Regions from separate parts of the Homo sapiens genome. Here region 1 is linked to region 2. The links come from fine-mapping of genetic effects on gene expression. A gene starts in region 2. The other region holds a variant in brackets. All regions are shown on one strand. Distances are from middle to middle.

Region 1 (9,802 bases), 41 kb after region 2:
ACAGTTTCTAAACTCTGGCTCTCAATTTCTGTCCCCATCTTGCTCCAAATCGGTAACAAAGAGGTTCGGAGACTGGCACAGGTCTGCGGGCCATGCTTTGATTGGCATGGCTCTAGGGGGTGTGGCTTATAAATCTGACAGAGCAGGTGTCTGGGCTGTTGAAGAAAGGCAGTCCAAGGGATAGAACCACACGAGGCCTTTGGAGCAGTGGCACAGCTGTTCTATAAGGGTCTCCTGAAACACAGGAGAAGCAGAAACAAAACATCTCTAAGAGCAGCAAGAAAGACAGCTAAACACAGCAAAGAAGAGCCACAAGGCTATGACGTGTGAAGCCAGCCCTCCTCTGAGCACAGCCTTGCACTTGCTCAGTCCGGTACAGTTGCTGTAAAGCCATCCAAAGCAAACATGGCCCTCCCTGCAGCAGACTCAACAGAACAAAAACCAACACCCAGAAATAAATTAGATCGCCGAGCTCATCATGTTACACAGCCCACTGTTCTCAAATCCAGAATCGTGAATATAATAACAAATGATACTATTAACTGGCAAATCGGTCTAAAGCCAAAACCAAATAACTCATTACTATTAACCAACATGATTCTCAGAATTTTCTAGGTCAGCTACAAGAAAGAGTTATGAGACTCTTCCCAACTGAACTAAATCTCACCCATGTCTAATTACACGCAGTGTGTATGGCTAAATCCTTTTTCTCTTCTGCACAGCTAGCTTGTGTCTCAGAGCCCCTAAACCCCCAGGGACTTCTCAAAGGAGGCAGGCATGTAGCCAGGTTGAAAGGAACATAGAGCCGGGAGCCAGCACATAGGAGCTTAAGGGCCACCTGCTAGCTCGGTAATCTCAAGCAAGTCCCTGAATTTCAGTTTATTTATCCATAAAACAAGACTAATGACAACCACTTCCCTGGAAATACAGCTAAAAACGTTCAGCAATTTGTACAACGCTATGTGGACATTAATCCTTACTACTCAGAAATAAGCAGCTGAGAGATGTTTGTAACCATTCCCATTTCCCCCGCCACACACACACACACACACACACACAAAGCTTCGTCCTTTACAATTTATTTCTTCCTTAGAGTTTGGATCACTTCTACCTGTCACACACCATCTTCCTTACGATCCCAGCATCACTGGGATGTAGCAGGGAACTGACGCCATCCTGTCTGCCTTCCAATGTGGAACAATGGCACACAGTAGAGCATCCAAGGTACATCAACAGTGACAAAGATGACTTGAAAATTCACAGGGACATTTGAGTGGGAGTAATAAGTTTGGTTTATTAAGCTTGTGGCTTTTCTTAATCTGGCTCCTCCTTATCTCACCTTCTGCTCTGACAGGAAGTCACTGCTCTGCGTTGGTTTTGTTCATTCTGTTTAACATGTAGAAAGCTTTACTGTTGCCACACACCTGTACAAGGAAAGCAGGTTTTTTATAAAATTCTGTGTTCTGGGAGGGTACTCATTCACATACAACTTAACATACAGGGAGGTCAGGCAGGTGATTTGGTCTAGGTCATAAGCTGTGTTGCCTTGGGCAAATTACTTAGCCTCTTGGAACTTATTTCTTCCATTGTAACATAAGTTGTCCTGCTTTCCTCAAAGACATAGACATGAAACCATAAATGATCATATAAAAAGAATTTTGGAAATAAGGTATTTTACTTATATATTATTAAGTTATAATGAATAATACATAATTATAGTATTATTTTTTATTATTCCTACTCTTTGTGCTAGAAAACAATTTGAAAGGAGTCTCTTGCAATCTGCCGAGCATAATAGCTCTGGATTTTAATTCTCCTTTCTAAAATGAATGGAAGATAAAATGCATACCTCTTAAAAGAAAGATCTGTTGATTTAATGCAAATTTTGATCAGTGTTACTAGGAAGTGATTGGCATTCTGATGCGTGATCTGTTTGTATTCATTTTATATTTGCACTGCTGATCAGTGTCTGGCACAAACAGAATCTTGTAGAATCTTGAGTCTAATACCTTTTGTATTGAAGGCCTGGCAATGCATTGTCATCTGTTCCTGGGAAGAATTACAAAATGCAGTCCTTTATTTTTAAAAGACATTATTATTAAGTCCCTGGAAAAACACATGGCCATTTTCAATTAAAAATGAGTAAAAGAGAGACTCTGAATCAAAAATAGTTGCCAATGTTCACCTTTAACAACATTATGAAATCTCACAAAAATGTAACTAAAATTTAACCAAATTTGGGCAAACTTAGAGAAACGACATGAGTAGGGATGTTTGCTGCAAAACATATGGTTTTCTCTGGTTGGTGCTCAGGCTTTAGCTAAGCCACATTGTGAAGTAACCATAATCTGTGCAAGGTCCATGTCTCTCTTCATCATAAATCTATGTCCAAATGAAAAAGAGAGAAGAATGAAATATGATAGGCACCATTTTGTGCCAGGAAAAATAGTAAGTATTGCTTGAGAGCAATGGACATCTTTGAACTCTGTCTGCAACTTCATTACATTCTTATGGCATGGATATTTTTCATTTATAAATATTATATACACATATAGTATAAATTTTCTTTATAGCATAAGTACTCTGATACAGGTATTAGAGATGGTATCTCCAGATATGAGTTCTTTATGGCATACATACCTCTCCCAAAAAAGTGCTAAAAGCAATTAGCCGGATGTGGTGGTGGGCGCCTGTAGTCCCAGCTACTCGGGAGGCTGAGGCAGGAGAATGGCGTGAACCCAGGAGGCAGAGCTTGCAGTGAGCCGAGATCGCGCCACTGCACTCCAGCCTGGGCGACAGAGAGAGACTCCGTCTCAAAACAAAACAAAACAAAAAAGTGCTAAAAGCACAGACCTGAAAGTCCCCAAACTGATACATAACGTTTACACCTAGGTGTGAAAAAAAATCTTACCCCTAGAGCACCTGTGGTGAGAAAGTCAAAACTTACAAGAACAAAACTCAGTCTTCAGAATCTTCTTCCTTCATCACAGGATCAACACATTTCATCTGGGCTTCTTAAATCTAAATCTTTAAAATGACTAAGTTTTCTTCCTTTTCTCTGTTTTTCCTAATAGTTGGGGCTTATATGACTCATGTGTGTAAGTATCTCCTATATCTACATGTAAACATTAAATGAATTTCTACTGACTATATTGTTATATTATAGATGAAAATTATTTTCACAATCATTCCTATCTTTCTGAACTGTAATGTATTATACAAATTTTTCATCAGTAAAATTATTGTAGCTTTTAGGTAGGGTTATTGTTGTTTTTTAAGCTTTGAAAATAATATAGTGACTGTCATTGGAAGAATTACATGAAACAGTAGTTTAGATCTTTTGTGTGAAACCTTTTGGTCTACTTTTGTAGGTTTCAATATGGAAATTATTGGAGGGAAAGAAGTGTCACCTCATTCCAGGCCATTTATGGCCTCCATCCAGTATGGCGGACATCACGTTTGTGGAGGTGTTCTGATTGATCCACAGTGGGTGCTGACAGCAGCCCACTGCCAATATCGGTGAGTCCTCCACACTTTTCCAGACATGTGTTTTTTCTGAAAGTTATTATAGGTACAAGAGAAGCTTACCTCTCCTGAATGAGAATTTGATCTACTGTTAGCTTCTGTGGTTACTGACCAACTGGTGGCGTTTATTTACCTTCTTCCACATCCACGCTTTCTGTCTTGGGTTTTCCTTTTCAGAGAGAACTGAGCTGCTTTTCCCAGGCAAGACATTAGACAAATTCAAGTCCTCTGTATAATGCAGGGAACACAGCAACAGTAATACTTGAAGCAGCAGTACTCTTGACCTTGTTAGATCACACTGCTCAAAAGGAAATCAGACAACCTGAGCTTGCTCTGTGCTCTGAGCTTCCCCATTTTACAAAGGGGTAATAATCATATCATACCTGCTTTGTGGGTTTTGAGAATTAAATAGTATCTGTTTAAGTATTTTAGCATGCTTGGCACATTTAGTAAGCACAAAAAAATTGCAGCTATTATCATTAGTATTATACGCATGAGAAGCCTACTTTGCCACTCCTAACAGTAGCTACCTAACAGTAGCTACTCACCACTTACAACTTTCCTAGGTGGAAAAAAACAAGTTATTGATGACTTCTAGAAAGAGAAAGATAATGAGAGAGTTATTTTCTAGGATACTTAGAATGAAAGCTTTTCTGAAGACAGAGTAAAACCTTCCAAAGTCCATTTCAGCCTAGGATTCTCTTACTTCAGCTAATAAAGCACAAAACCCCTCTTGGGATGCTGCAACCATCACAAAAGGAAATGCCAGTAGAAAACTAATTTGGTATTTGTTGTTTTGTTTGTTTGCTTGGGTTTTTGGTTTTGTTTTTTGTTTGTATATATGTTTCCTTATGTTTCTTACCTAATAAGCTGAAATGGAGCCTTCTCCTTTTCTTTCACTTAAAGATCTCTCTTAGCTGTAATGGTTTGCTCTCCAGGCATTGTCTATATCTAAACAGAACAATTGAATTGATTTGCTTTTCTATGCTTTGGGGGTTTTGTCTGATTACCCCATTTAAATGGAACTGTTTGATCACAAATTGGAAGTTTTGAAGCCTGCAAACTGGGAGATCTTCTGCTATCTCTAAATAGCAAGCCACTGATTTCCAATTTAATATGGTTACTTCATTTACACAGGGTTCTTGCCCTCATAGAAATCACACTCTCATCCCCATCACTTCTCTCTTCTCCAGGGCATTTGCCCCCTCGAGATCAGAGAGACAGAGTGGGGAACTGTCAGCGAATGTTCATTTGATGCAAAATATGCACATCTTCAAATATGCTCATAATACACATTCAAATGGTCTATAACCTCCCCAGACACAGAGCTTGACTTCTAAATGTTCAACAAACTTTGGATGGAAAGAAAGAAATACACTGAAAGATCTTTCTTTCTTTCTTTCTTTCTTTGGCTAGGCCTGAAACATGGTGTATGAAAAAGTGCTTCACTAGCCATAAAGTGTTATAGGAAATTAAATAATATCACTAAGTTGAATTTTAAATTTTGTCAAGTGGATTTAACTCACGAGAAGCGGATTCCCAAATTGGGGAAAGAGATTATTGACAAAAGACTGGAGAGAGGTCTTGGAGTTTTTTGTGTTTTGTTTTTTTTTTCTTAAAACAAACTATTGCTAAATATCATTTTAAATGGCTGGGGTATAAAGAACTGCAAAATATGTAGATCAAATTTCCTCTACAGGACACTTGGGTGTAAAAAGTAGGCAGATCGGTGGTTGGAAAAATATTAAGCTTTATGAAATTCAAAATATTTACAAAATAGCTCAATGGTGGCTTCCCACAAATGTACTCCCCAGTATCCTGTGGGAATAGTTTG[C/G]CCCAAGCCTCTCTCTCAGCAAAATTTTGAAGAGGGCCAAACCTGGGAGTGCTCCCTTCTCACCAGCCATCCACACATCTCCTCCCTCAATATTCTGGCCCCTTTATTAGTTGCCATGTCAAATATAAAAGGAAATTGATAAAAAATGTCCTGTACAAACTTATTTTCAGCATTTTAACTTACCAGAAGCAAAACTCTCACCAGCTGTTGTACCCTGTTCTCCTGATTCTCTCCCAGGCCCCTCTCACAGAGCACTTCCTCCTGCCCCAACCTGCCTAGCAAGTTGTTAGATGGAACCTTCCACAGCCCCTTCCACATGGCCTCACTCCATCTCAAATGCTCAAGGCTCCTGGAACAAAATGGTTCAATGTTCAGGCTCTAGATTCAAGCCAACTGAGCTTTAATCCTGCCCGAATTTGCCTCCTGGAGGCAAAGGTCCTCAAGTTTATTCGTTTACCTGAACCTCAATTTCTTCATCTATAAAATGGGGATTGTCATAATACCTATCTCACCACGCTGTTGTGCGGTTTAAATGAGGGAAGCTTTGTAAAATGCTTAGCACAGAACACAAAGAACTTAATAGATGTTATCGAGTATTGTTATACAATTATCTGTGCCTTCCATGGTAATAACCAAGGAACTAATCTGATGTTGACGAGATAAGACTGGGAAGACCTCCCTCTCTGACAGCCAAGTTCTTCTCCCTCTCTCTTAGGCAAGAGAAATCTCCAAGACATAGGGACCCTGCCTTTGCTGCCAGACCTCAAGGGGCGGGTCTAAGCAGAACCACTGTTGAGTGTCCAGGCGCGCTGGCAGAGAAAAGAAGAGGCTTGAAGGGGGTTGGCACGGGGTTCAAAGAGGGATTGAGGAAAGAGCACTGGACTGGGAGTCACCAAAAGCCAAATTTGGGTCCTGATTCCCCTATTTATGAGGTGTGTCACCTTGGACCAGTCAGAGAACAATCTTTTACTGGTAAGGAATACACAGCCCGTCAGCTTTACCAGCCTTGAAAAAGGTTATTGTTAGGCTCAATGGAGACAATGTTTACAGATGTCTTCAGCAGACCCACTATAAGCCGCACTGTAGTTCTGCTCCATATATGAATCTCTTCCAGGAAAGCTCAGGGTGGGACTCCGGAAACCACATTTTAAACCAACACCTCCAGGTGATTCTGAAGCAAGTCTGAAGACTGCATTTGGGGAAATCCTGTGCTGTGCAACTGAAAAACACTGGCATTATTACTTCCTCTTTGTGTGAATTCAGACTTCAGTTTAGCTAAGGAGGTGGCATCCCAGAACTCAAGTAATTCCAGGTACCCTGTGGGCAGAAAATTTGACCTGAGTAGCACAGATTACAGTTGAAGGATATCTAGAAATTGAAAGGTCAGAAGGAATAATGGTCTGCTTGGGTTGTTTTTGGTCTTAACATGTCCCAGTGGAGACAAAAATAACCAAAACATTTCAAAGGCAATAACTAGCCGAGTAAATTAGTAAAAGACGAAAGAAACCCAGACATTTTTTCAGCATCCCTCCCTTAGTGAGAATCCACCCTCCATACCTCTCATTTGTACCTCATAGCCTTCTTTGTGTGAGTCATTTAGGCACGTGCCCACCTTTCTGTTAGAGCATTCATCCTGAAGATTTTTATGTCATCCTTCTCCTACAAAGTTTTGGGTTTAGTGGGTATGTTGAATTTGAATTCAAATCAATCCTAGGAAATCCAGTCCACATCCTATGAGAAATTTCCACCCGGTCCTGATTTTGCAATAGGCAAACTTTTCAACAAATAGAGCTGGAATTCCCAAAATAAATAAAAATAAACTCTTTTGGTAGAAACCAAAAAGTGGTCATTCCAGGCAGTCACAGCTCTGCCATAAGCAAACCCACTCTACCACAGGCATTTGCCATTTTCAAATCTGAAACAATCATGTCTTCCTTTTTCTGTATGTTTCTGTGCTCTTTGTAACTTTTATTAATCTTTATTAATCTATATGCATGAGTATGTGTGTTTTTACTGCAATCTACTTTGGTAGCTTTTCCAAGTAGCAAAGAAATAGTTACATGTAAACAAACAAATACAATTAAAAGATCTGAGGTGGACTTCATAAAGATAGACACTGTAATGGAATGTATCTGTAGTATACAAATGGCTCTACGGTTCTGCCAAAATCTCCAAAAAATTATTTCTACTTTATCACTGCTGTAAATGTAATTTTATCCAACAAAGAGTAAATCAGATCAATTGTGGCACTGTTGAAACACTGGTACTAGAACTGTGTATGACCAGAGATTTAAAAAGCAAACCTTGCCAGGCACAGAGACTCACGCCTGTAATCCCAGCACTTTGGGAGGCTGAGGCCAGTAGATCACCTGAGGTCAGGAGATTGAGACCACCCTGGCCAACATGATGAAATTCCGTCTTTACTAAAAATACAAAAATTAGCCAGGTGTGGCGGCACAAGCCTGTAGTCCCAGCCTCTCGGGAGGCTGAGGCAGGAGAATCGCTTGATCCTGGGAGGCGGAGGTTGCTGTGAGCCGAGATGGCGCCACTGAACTCCAGCCTGGGAAACAGAGCAAGACTCCTTCTCAAAAAAAAAAACGTTAAAAAAGAAAGCCAAAAAACAAACCTATTTCTTCACCTCACTCACCAGTTCGTATCCTCTAAATCTCCCCGATGGAATGGCTACTAACCTTAAAGTATCTTCATTTTAAATTAGCACTGTTTTCTTACCTTGAGGAAAGTTTTCCTTTCTTGTCCAAATCTTTGTTCTAATTGAGGGGACAGGACATATGGACATATCTGACTGTCATGTAATAGGCCTTACTTCCCCACATTGACCTGAGATGAAGTCTAGGCATGTGGGTGAGCAAGTGTAGGGTGGGGATCTTTGTGGTTTTTGTTTGTTTGTTTGTTTGTTTGTTTGTTTGTTTTTAAGAGATGGGGCCTTGTTCTGTCACCCAGGCTGTGACACTTCAGCCTCCAGCTCCAGGACTCAAGCAATCCCTCCTGCTTCAGCCTCTCAAACAGCTGGGACTGTAGGCATGCACCACCATGCCCAGCATGCACCAGTGTGCCCCTTAATGTTTTTTTAGAGATGGGGGTCTCACTGTATTGCCCAGGTTTCTCTCAAACTCCTGGCCTCAAATGATCCTCCCACCTCAGTCTCCCAAGTGGCTGGGATTACAGGCATGAGCCACCACACCTGGCTACCTTAATTATTAAAACACTTAATGTTGGGAAGATAAAAAAAGTTCTGGGGTTCTGGAGATGATAGTGGTGGATGAACAACAATATACATGTCCTTCATACCACCAAACTGTACATTAAAGAATGGTTAAAATGGTAAATTTTACCATTCTTATACCATTATGTATACTTTACCACAATAAACAAATTTTAATGGTAGTTGGTGTAAATCTCAAACTACAAACTCAAGGAATATAATTTGCTTTATTTTTACATAAATGAACATAATTTTGTTTTAAACTTGATCTAAGTCAATTAGGATTTCACTCCTTTTTCTTCCCCCAGTTGGATACAAGTTCTGATATTCTTTTGCAATGCCAGGGAATTGGTTTAGGGTGGGATTAAGGGCAAGTCATTTGGCCCTTAATATCAATTCATGCTGGGCTCCACTAAGACCTTTGTCACTCCACCTAATCTTAGGCAGGTTACCTTGGAGATAGCCCTTGTTTCTCTGTGTATACAACCCTCTCGACCATCACCACTCCCCACTGGGGGATTTGGAAATCATTCTGCTGCTTTCATTGTCTTTGCTTTTTTTAGGTTTACCAAAGGCCAGTCTCCCACTGTGGTTTTAGGCGCACACTCTCTCTCAAAGAATGAGGCCTCCAAACAAACACTGGAGATCAAAAAATTTATACCATTCTCAAGAGTTACATCAGATCCTCAATCAAATGATATCATGCTGGTTAAGGTAGGTAGTAGCATTGTCTTCCTTCTATTTTGTCAACATTTTTATACAGGATGGCTCAATTAGTTAAATCACCTACAAAATGCATTTTGCTAGCACCCTCCCCATGTTTGAGGTGATTATGATATATTTTATAAGGGCCCATGTTATTCCATATACTGTCTTGAAAGAAACAAGAATTTATCACAAATGCACCAGGGCTGTGTTTATACAAGGAAAAGCAACTCTGATACTCAACATATGTAGGAGGGGAACATCTTAACAGGCCCAAGGATCCACACTGAAAGCTTTTCTCCCAAATGCTTTTCTCATTAGCAAGTAAAAAAATACAACAGTTGTTTATACAACAGAGCCAACCAAGTGACTTCGGGGGCTCAGCAGTGAGTTACAGCTTAGTCTAGACCACACTTAATTTAGTCCGAACTTGGTCTAGACCATACTCAAGGGTCCTATCCGGCAGGAAGCAGCCCAGCCCTCAAAGTCATGACCTATGGATGTTATTCCACACA
Region 2 (10,229 bases):
GAAAGACAGATTAACTTTTGCTGCATCCAGAAGGCAAAAGGCAGACCAATGGGTAGAACGTTCATAAAGACACTTCTCACTCTACATATGAGAAAAGTTTGTAATATTTGAAATTTGCTAAAATGAAATTTTCTACTTCAAGGAGTAGTGAGGTGTGCTTGCTTTGGCAGTGCACATTCTGATGTGGAATGCTTTAAGAAGATTAGCGTGGCCCAGCAGACGAATGTGTGTAAGTCCATGAAACATTCCAGATCTTACTCCCCCAAGACCCTCGTACACAAAAACTTACTTGTGAATTCCCAACTTGGGAAGCTCACTGCCAAAAAAAAGAACACCAAGTGGAACACTGTGGACAGGAAGCACATTTGACAAGAGTGCTGTAGCCAGCAGGTGGAAAGTTGGAGAAGACAAGCTCGTGCTCTGGGGGTCCTAGTGCTGGTGAAGCTTGCAGCCATTTAGCCTGCTCTCAAAGGCTGGGCCCAAACAGGTTTGTGCAGAGGTGATGTGAAGCCTGTGTCAGGAGTGAAGCCCAAGCCTTCTCCTGTAAACTCCAGTGCATGAACCTGGAAGTCTCATGTAGTCTCAAAGACACATGTAGACTACAAAGAACCCTAGGCAGCCTCCCCAAGAGGTCCTTAGGGTTTTCTGCTCTCCATCCTGAACCTGACTAAGGTTTACCAAGATCACACTAAAAATCATCTTTTGCTGGTTGCACCTTTAGCTAATGAAAGGAAATACCCTAGGTCAGAAAAGAGAGAAACTGACTGCTTTTTTCAAATATTTCTGATAAGAATCTCAATGCCTAACTTTGATGTGGAAATATTTTTGTGTAACCTATAATGTAAGTATTGTTATGGGCATCACCATACTTAAAACTAATAATTCACTTAAAAGCACGATATTTCCGCTTCATTTTAATGTGTTTAGTTGACCCATACATAAGAAGGAGGTAAAATTAGAAAACAAGCACCTTTGCCAAATAGTTTATATTTTATTAACTTGAAATGCAAAAGACCAAAAGCAAAAACTAAATAAAATGGACTTGAATTGTTATTTATAGTTGTGGTGGGAAAAAGTATATCATTTGTTGATACTAGCCATCTCTGTGACTATATGTTGGGCTTATTATTTATTTATTTTTTATAATTTTAAATACAGTTTTTAATTGACAAATAATAATTGTATACATTTAGGGTACAATATGATACTTTGATATATATCTCCACTGTGGAATGATGAACTCAAACTAAGTAGCATATCCATCACCTCATATACTTATTTTTTGTGATGGGAACATTTAAAATTTATTATTTTACCAATTTTGAAATATATAAGAATTATTAACTACAATCGCCATTCTGTGCAATGGAGGCCTAAGCTTTAGTGATGTATGTTGCTTTAAATGAGCTACTTTCAGTTTAATGGAACTCTCCTGTACTGGCCAGCTATTCAACAAAATAAACAAATATGTACATAGCACCATCTCATAGGTTGTGTATTCCTCACATTCTAACACCTGTATAAGAAATACACACGGACTAACAAGCAGCACGTATTACTACAGTTTCATTCATTTCCAAAATTTCAATCACATACTATTTCTTATCCTCTCCAAAATCCATAAAAACACACACTTGGAATTATTACACTTAAATGCTTTCATTTGGTTAAAAAAAAGAAACGTTCTATATTTTCTATCTTGACTCTTAAAGCTTATCCAATAAATTCCTCACAGTACTTTTTCTATGTGAAGTTGGGAGATAAATAGTTTTGTCTAGTAAATATATAAAACAGATCACTGAAGAATTTAAAGAACTTTGTGTATCTCAGTTGGTTATTTTTTATTACAGATTTTTGGTAATCAATCATATTTATCCTCCTATAAATCATATTTAAACCAGGTAAACTTTATGAGAAATTATATGTAAACCTCAAAATTATTGATGGGCTCTTTTTAGAAAACAGCAACAGCAACCAAACTCAGCTACCACCCACCGTTCCCCTGAGTAAAGCAAAGGAAATAAAATCATTCCAATCCACATCTTATTCTACTCACAGATATTTTCTAAGTTATTCACACTGAAATGAGACTATTCTTCCAATGCTTATACCAGAATCAGTGCTTACCCGTGAGAGAAACAAATCTGTTGGAAGACTTGGTTACTGAATATTGGAAGAAGGGGAATTTCAGGCATTTTCCCGTCCCCCTGTCACAGATGCCTGACTGGCAGTTGCAGGTCTCTCTGCAATCCATCCCGAAGGTGCCGTAGGGACAGTCTGGGGACAAAGGAAAGGTTGGAGAGGACGCTGCTTGTTGTAAATACGTCTCCATCCTAACAGCCCTGGGTGCATAGCCTTGCGATTTGAACCAACCTCATGAACCTTGACTGTAAAGTAAAATCCAATTCTCCAAACCCAGGATTTGAAAGTTGAAACTTTGAGTCATAAATATGAAATCACACATTAAGAACAGATAATGGATGCCTCGGGCTTAGTGTTGTGATGTAAAGTTAAGTTGAAGACAGCTACACACAGCCAGTCTCCTTGGACCAGTCTTCATTCTGGTGATGTTCTGCTTAGATACCAATAAATTCTCACAGATGACCTCTGTAACAGCTCAGCAAAGGTGGGAAATTGAACAGACATATATGCATCAGCTCCTCAAAGAGTTTTTAAAATGTGATGCTATCTTTGAATCTACTGTATTCACAGATAATTTACTATTTTAAGTGTATAGGAAAGGGCTTCAAACTAACCAGGGAGAGAGCTATCATCCTAGCTCACCATGAAGCAATCAATCTTCCATCTGCTCCAACCCTTATCAAGTTCCTTATTTGTCGAAACGGCATGTCATACAACTTGCCTGACTCCCTCAGTAGTTAAGAGGGCTCCCTAGTAAAATCCTCTGCAAGGCTAACATGCAAGATGCTAAATGAGCAAGAAAGCTCAGGGCTTATACACCCTGAGGGTTTGTACACCTACCAAGAACTAGAAGCTTTTAGACCTCCAGTGCTTACACTTATGCCAAAACATCCTACATTGAAATAAAGAGGACAAAGTCGTTTATTTAAAATGCATAAAATTATTTAAAATGCTGTTTTTAGGATAAACAGCATCTCAGTAGACTAACCAACCTTTAAAAGCCAGCAGAATAGATATAGAATATTCTCTTGTTGTGAAAATACCTTGTAAATGTACAATCACAGGTGGGTAAAGAACAAATTGTGAGCCATCTGAGTCTCTAGCAGTCTAATACTCCACTAACTGACCAAGTAGATCATCAATGAGCTATCTTTTTTTAAAGAGATCTATGAGTGCTCTTTTCAATATGGTTCAGATCACAGAGGAACCTGGTTTTGAACACTGTTCTCTTTGCTGGGAAGAAGAGATCTTAAAAAGGGATCCTGCAAAGGCCTGTTCCAGAAAAGCACACAGGATTAGGATTTGACTGTGCCTGCAGCGATATTGAAAACTAAAACTTTAGCCAAATTCCCAGAGATACTTCTAGTGTATCCCCTGATGTACTGAACAGTGCTGGGCAGATAGTAAGTGTTCATTAAATATGTGTTGGCTGCTGATTGTTAATCTGGGCAAGATGTTCACAGACATCTGAATATTTAGAAGACATTTGGATACGCAGCTGAAGTTTACAGTTTTCACGTGGATGTTCTTTTAAAAAGCTGAAGAAGGGAGATGATTGCCAAATGTATTATCTCTATCTCGAGTTGCTAAGGCTCACAAAGTCTCCTATTTCCAGCAGAGAGAAAAATGCTTAAAACTAGATTCATCAGCAACCTGAAGAAAGCCAAAAGAAGCAATCTTAAAGATCTTTTTAGTATCTTGATCATTCAGTAGAATACTACAGTGCTAAAGACTCCAGATGCCACACAGCTTGTTTCTTTGCCCATATGTAATGTACATTTACAATCACATGTACAAAGGCATATTATGCCAAGAGAAAAAGCAATCCACTGCATATACATGCTATATCATAAGTATGATTGTGTTAACCACTTCCTCCCTAATTTCCTTATGTGAAGTACTGTTTTCTTGGTCAATAAGCCCCATAATTTACAAAATATACAGATCCTATTCAGTTGAAAGAAACATGCATATGTGTTCACCAAACAAAATATTTTCTCAATATTCTATTTCTTATTGTATATAAACAAAAATAAACTAAGCAAAAAATAAAACTCTCCTAATACTTTAAGAATTTGTTTTTTTAATTTTGTATGTCTTGCAAATTAAAAGATGATTAATTTATACATTATATGTCTAAGAAGTAGGAGAATTAATGAGATTAGCACAATACTGGATAAATATTATTCATAAAAAATGTATTAAATACATAAAACATAATAATTATTTAGAAATTTCTCAGTCCTTTTTATAATTTTGAAAGCTTCCTGGTATTACACAACTGATGGATGGGGTTATAGCATGTGTTGCTTCTTAATAATAGCTCTTCATAATAAGATCATGAGATATCTATACGTAGAGTATTTTTAAATCATCATTCTTTTTATTCTAAACATTTTTAAAATGTTAAATATTTTAAACTAGTTACTATGTTTAAAATAAATTCTACAAATGCTTAACTACATTATTTAGCTAAAATTTCAACCGACGAAGTTTTTCTTTAAGTGTACAAGTGGTCAACCTCATTCTTTACAGACTTCCAGTTTTTATTTTTCTCTATTGTTATTTTTCCTTGTCTTAACACCATCTGCTATTTTTCCAGATGACCAAAACCTTTATAAAGTCAGATGAGGTTTGTTTTATGCTTCAGGGGACCCTCTTTGAAGAGTGAGTTATTTTGTTAGATGACTTAAGCTCACTCTATTCCATAAAGTGCATTTGTGTTTATCAGAAATATTTGATCTTGAGAGTGGCCCTCCATCCTGTGGACCCTTTCAAGATCAAAGAATCACTAAATCTGGGGGCTAGAAACCATTCCAAGAGGTTATCTAGTGCAGACCTTTGTAATCGCTGCCTCGCAGAGGAGAGAGCACCTAAGCCATCCTTAACAGATTACCTGTCAAGTTTCTAAAGTTTTCCAGAAAAGGAGCCAACACAATCTTCCATTGCAGCTTTCTTTTTGCGATCTCCTAAGGCAACGAGTAAAATGCCACACTTCTTTCTGTGCCTTCCTGCACACTGGTTTCAGTTGCTACTTGGAGCTATCCTTCAGTCTCTACCCATGACAATACCTGTGTGGTGCCTTGTCAAGAATCCACCTGCCTTTTCCCTCTTACTCTTGAGGAGCAAAGCCACCTCACCTCCCAAGCTGGCTAAAAGCTCTCAGCATGCCCCGGGAGGGGAGAGGTAAGGGGTCACTCTTTACCTTTGCAGATACCAAACTCTTCACCAAAAGGATCCTCCCCATTAGAAGGCTGACACCTCAGCCCCGGGCCACACTTCATGCCATCCATGCCTGAGACTGTGCGGTAGCAAGTTTCTCCCCGCCCTGCAGCGCACACTCGGCAGCAGCCACAGTCGTCGAGCACTGTCCTCTTGCAGCGCGGGCTGCTTTTGCACTCACTGCTGTCACAGTGTTGAGGGCAGTCCACCGCATAATTATTGCTCCAGGCGGCCACCAGGTGTGCAGGCACGAGGAGCGTGGTCAGCAGCAAGACGCTCTTCATGTTTCCCAGCTGCCTCCGGCTCGGCTCTCCAGTCGTGGTCTTTGCTGGTGGGAAGCAGCCGTCCAAACTGGTAGCTGAGCCTCTGCCTACACGTTTATGAGTTTTATACACTGGGTTGCCCGCATGCTTTCCCGTCATCAATTTCCTCAACCCAGCAGCAGCGCTGTCCTCCTGCCAGGCTCTCTTGTTTTGGTTTATGAAATCCAGGATGAAGGCTGGATTAACACGCTGCTGCCATCCAGGAATTGAAAAGCCCAAGCTGATGTCATCTGTTATGTTTAGATGGTTGTTTTGCATGAGGACTGAAAAACTCACTCACATCCGTCTCAAGGGCTCAAGGACGTCTGTGAAGGAGGGATAAAGAAGGTTGCACACCCTCCTTCAGGACGGGAATTGTTCTGACCCTGGCATATCACTTGAGGTGTAGCTTTGTCTCAGAGCCTCTGTAGTCAGGAGGAAAATGATATCAACATGAATCATCAGGACCGAAGAAGCTTCTTCAAAAAAAATAATAAACATTTGGTATTTCCCCTCAACAAATAGCTATGAGATCATTTGAAAGAAGAAAGGGTTATATTGTGTCTTTTCAATACTTAGAAGAAAGAAAATATTTTGATAGGGCTATTTTTTAAGACCCTCTCTTCCTTCCTCTCACCCCTCTCCTCAAATGTTATTTCTAAAGCAATTCATGTTACATATATCTAAGCCTATTGTGGATATAGCTGTGCTTCCAGTACAATGTGGAACTGCCTCTGAGAATTTCTTTTAAAATCAATACAAAAAGCCACAAGAGAGGTAAGATCCTTTCGGCACTGCTTCTGGGTTACTCAATTCTGGAAAAACTTATCAGTTGGACTTCTGATCCAAAACTTCCTCAGGGGAAGGCTCATCCATCACTAAGTCTGCTTGTCCAATGACGGAGTCCACCCAGAGCCCTTCCCCTCACCTCCTGGCATCTATCAGAGCCCTCACTAAAAACTGCCAAGCGCGGCAGCCAGCCCAAGGCAACAAGTGGCTCAGCAGGAAAATCAGAACACAGCCCCCAAGAAACAAGTCACAGGGAAGGGAAACATTACCCCTCAGGAAACAAGGTCTGCATGCTAAGAGGGTTACCGTGCCTAGGTCCCTCTGGGAAAACAGAGTAGCCCTCTTAAAATATCAACTGTGCCAGGGTCTTATTAAGTAAGGTTAAAGAGGAGAGAGGGGAGTTCTTACACCAACCACATGCCGAATTCCATGCCCCCACCTCACTTGTCAAAAGAGATATAGACTCACTGTCACTTAGTAAATAACAACCCAGTAAAGTGGGTAATTCTTGGTCTGTCACAAATGAGCTGTAAGAAATTCACAGGACTTCTCTTGGCCTCAGCTTCCTCTTTTGAGAATTGATGGTGTTAGGCTACCTGACCTCTAAAATTCTTGTTTCCCATAGAAGATGAGGCAGAGCGGGCATTGGATGTAACTTGAAGATCGGCTTTTGCAAATGCAATTTTAGGGGGACACAGGGAGTAAATTCAGAATACAGAGAATTGAGGCAGTAGGAAATGAAAGCAAGAGTTTTAGCTTTCAAATTTTCCAAATTTTTCATGACAATCCAATTTGAAATACTCTATCTCCCCAGAAGCACTTACTTAGCAGGTGGCACACTCTGATGTTTTCAGTAATGGGTAATATTTGTTGAGTTAATAGCTTAAACACTTTACATGCATTAACTCATTTGCACCTCATCACAATATTATGAAGTGGCTGCTATTATCATGCTTATTTTTTAAAAGAAGAAACTGAGTAAGAAAGAGGTTAATTTGCCTAAGGTCCCTATATTGAAGGGATGGATGTTAGTCTAATGTCAGAGCCACATATTCTATTGCCTATTACAATACATAATTGTGCTTTCATGGCCAATAGTTCCAATGGCCTAGGTCGCAATTTAGGCTGACCCTAGAAAATGTCCCTTGTTACTGAACACCACTTTCTGAGGAGTAGTTAACTGGAATAGTGGTTAATAATAATATCTAACCTTTACAGAGATCTGACTGTGTGCCAGATGCCATGCTAAGCAGTTTATGTAGATTACCACATTTAACTTTCAAAACAACCTCAAGAGCTAGGTGCTATTCTTATCCCCATCTTAGATATGAGAAAACTGAGGCCTAGAGAGGGTAAGTAACTTGTCCATCATCACACAGTTAGCAAATGGTGAAGCCAGGACTCCAGCCCTGAGACCAACAAGCTCTGGAGACTGGATTAAGGATTGTAAAATCAAATACATACAGGTGCCAAACAGGTGCCCAAGGTGGGTGACATGGTAAGCTATACTAGATGTAATACAGAAGGAATGGAGTGGATTTCGTCCTCCTGAATAGCACATAAAGACATGAAACTCTTCCACTATGGAAGATAAAGGGAAACCAAATTGATAATACCTTCAGTAAATGACAACTAAACAAATGTAAGTTGAGAGTACCAAATCCAAATAGTAAACCAAACTACAATGCACAGGTAAGTGCAGAAAATATGCCCAATAGAGTTCACCAGTGGTGGAACTATCTCAATACACAGTGCCTAACAACTCATTTTAGGGGAACCTTCAATCCCTCCAAGACCCAACAAAAACCATTTGTCCCAACACAATCCCTGTAAGATTTTTATCTAGTGATTTCTGTCTTCCCCAGAGCCTTGAGCCCAGATCAATGAATTCCATTAGGAAAGTTAGCAATGACCACAAAGGGTTAGGAAATGGGAGCACGAGCAACCAAGGAGCCAACTCTAAGCTGCATTAAAAAGCAATAAGATGATGGCAGAGCTGTTGATAGTGAGTGCATGAGGTCCACCCATTTCACTTGCTTTGTGCTGGGGACTGGAACATCTCTCATCTTGCTCTGCCTGTATATCAGTTGTCAAGTCAGAGTGAGAAAGGGCAAGAGGAATTGCACAAGATTTTCACAACTCCTAAAATGTAAGTTCAAACTAAGGTGGGTCAAACCATACCATCTGTGGATCCAAATGTTGCAGCATATGGTGTTTTGCAATGGGGGCAGAGAAATGATAAAACCAAATATCTATTTAACCCAGTATACCCTGTATACTTAAAATGCCACTTTGATTTTTTTCTTAAAGCTGGTATTGTGTTAGGAAAATAAGCTTTGGTAATGTGCATTAATATTTTGTGTTTATTTTGTACATTATGATTGCTTCTAACCAAATAACAAGGATTTTTTTCTGGATAGGTAAAAGTAGTCCAGTGGAAAGGCTCTGGGCAGATCCCAGACTCTCAGAAGGTGGTTTATGGTAAAGCGAATTATACCGTACTTACTGTGCCTTCCTAACAAACCAGCTCTACCAGAGAAGTCTGGTTTAAATTGAATTACAAAGGCAGACTTGAGGGCATAAAGTTTGGAGGAGCAAGTGGAGACATTTACATGCAGATTTTAGGTGATTTGGTTTTTAGGTTAGTTTTGGTTGTGGTTTTTGATACCATCTGAAAGTCTTCCTGCTTTGACACTAGCTGATAGCAATTTTGCATGTGCCTACTGCAAGGTCTAGCCCACAGCAGGAGCTTAATACTTAATAAACACATAAAAGGAACCAACTGTTTCCCAGAATCATCTTCAGATGATAGTAAGTTAAACGGGCATCAATGTGTTCCCTTTCTTTCTCTTTCCACCAGGAGAAGCAAAGTGAGGCCCAGATTCTAGGGCAGGCTAGGTTAAGCTGCAGAATGTGTTTACTTGTGGGAATGAGGTAGAGGTGTCAAGAAACAGCACATCCAATCCAAGAGACATCGAGGATTGGATGGAGCCTGAGCAAAGACTGTAGTCCCATTGCGGCAGTTCCTTCACAGCTAACCAAATTTGTCCTGTTGACCTTGGGCTTGGCAATATCACATCCACCCTGGAAAGTTCATGGGAGCCCCTCATAGCCAATAGAACTTGGTGAAATACTTCTGCCAAACTGGCTGGGATTCACGGCAGTCACAGGTCAGCTGTCAAAGCCCAGGGCCTGAGGAATCTTCCCAGAGCCTCCTGCCCTGAGTACAGTTTGCCTAGAAACAGCTTTACCACTGCCAAGATATGTGATCTTAGGCAAGTCACATGCCACATACCTTAGACCTCTCCTTTCTCCTCAGTACCTCAATAATAAGAGGGCCAAACAGGGCAACAGATATGAAACCATCGTGACTATTATTATCAAGCGTCTGATTTCTGAAGATTGGCTTCATTCTTTAAATGTGATCTTATGTCTTGGAGCAAATATTTTCCCAAAAGAAATCTCTCTAATTCTTTAAGTTTCTATTTTTAATAAAGACAATTTTAATAGCAAAGTGGAATTGAATGTACCAATATATGATTTACAGGCAATTTTCAAAAACTACACCTGCTTAGAAGAGCAAAGTGAAATGCATCTGCTTTAATTAGGCTTCTTGCCCATATGGGGGCTCTCTGATTTGTCTTGATGAGCAGGTCAACCTCGTAGGCAGCTGGGGTGCCATCACACAGAGCTCTGCAGGAGCCCTGAGTGTGAGGGTGTGTGAGTGACTGCAAGAAGATAAGGACAGGACACCCGCAGTGTCTGCTACAAACC

Alleles and levels. Positions count from the first base shown, and alleles are read on the strand shown. Sizes are in standard deviations (SD) of each study's normalised expression.
As copies of C replace G in region 1, the expression in skeletal muscle of the gene that starts at base 5,724 in region 2 goes down (small effect, 0.40 SD a copy in GTEx).

The links.
Region 1: its variant is fine-mapped to the expression of ESM1 in skeletal muscle (GTEx, PIP 0.96).

Annotation. Positions count from the first base shown.
Region 1 is chr5:55,021,289-55,031,090 of GRCh38, forward strand. It overlaps GZMK (granzyme K), which reads left to right and starts at 2,968. Exons shown (of 5, transcript NM_002104.3): 1 at 2,968-3,098; 2 at 3,372-3,519; 3 at 9,146-9,296. The coding sequence starts at 3,035. LOC102467081 (a long non-coding RNA gene) reads right to left here and starts at 2,881. Exons shown (of 3, transcript NR_104662.1): 1 at 2,641-2,881; 2 at 1,340-1,424; 3 at 11-234. The variant C/G (reference allele first, on the strand shown) is at 5,360.
Region 2 is chr5:54,979,870-54,990,098 of GRCh38, forward strand. ESM1 (endothelial cell specific molecule 1) reads right to left here and starts at 5,724. Exons shown (of 3, transcript NM_007036.5): 1 at 5,348-5,724; 2 at 2,128-2,277. The coding sequence starts at 5,648.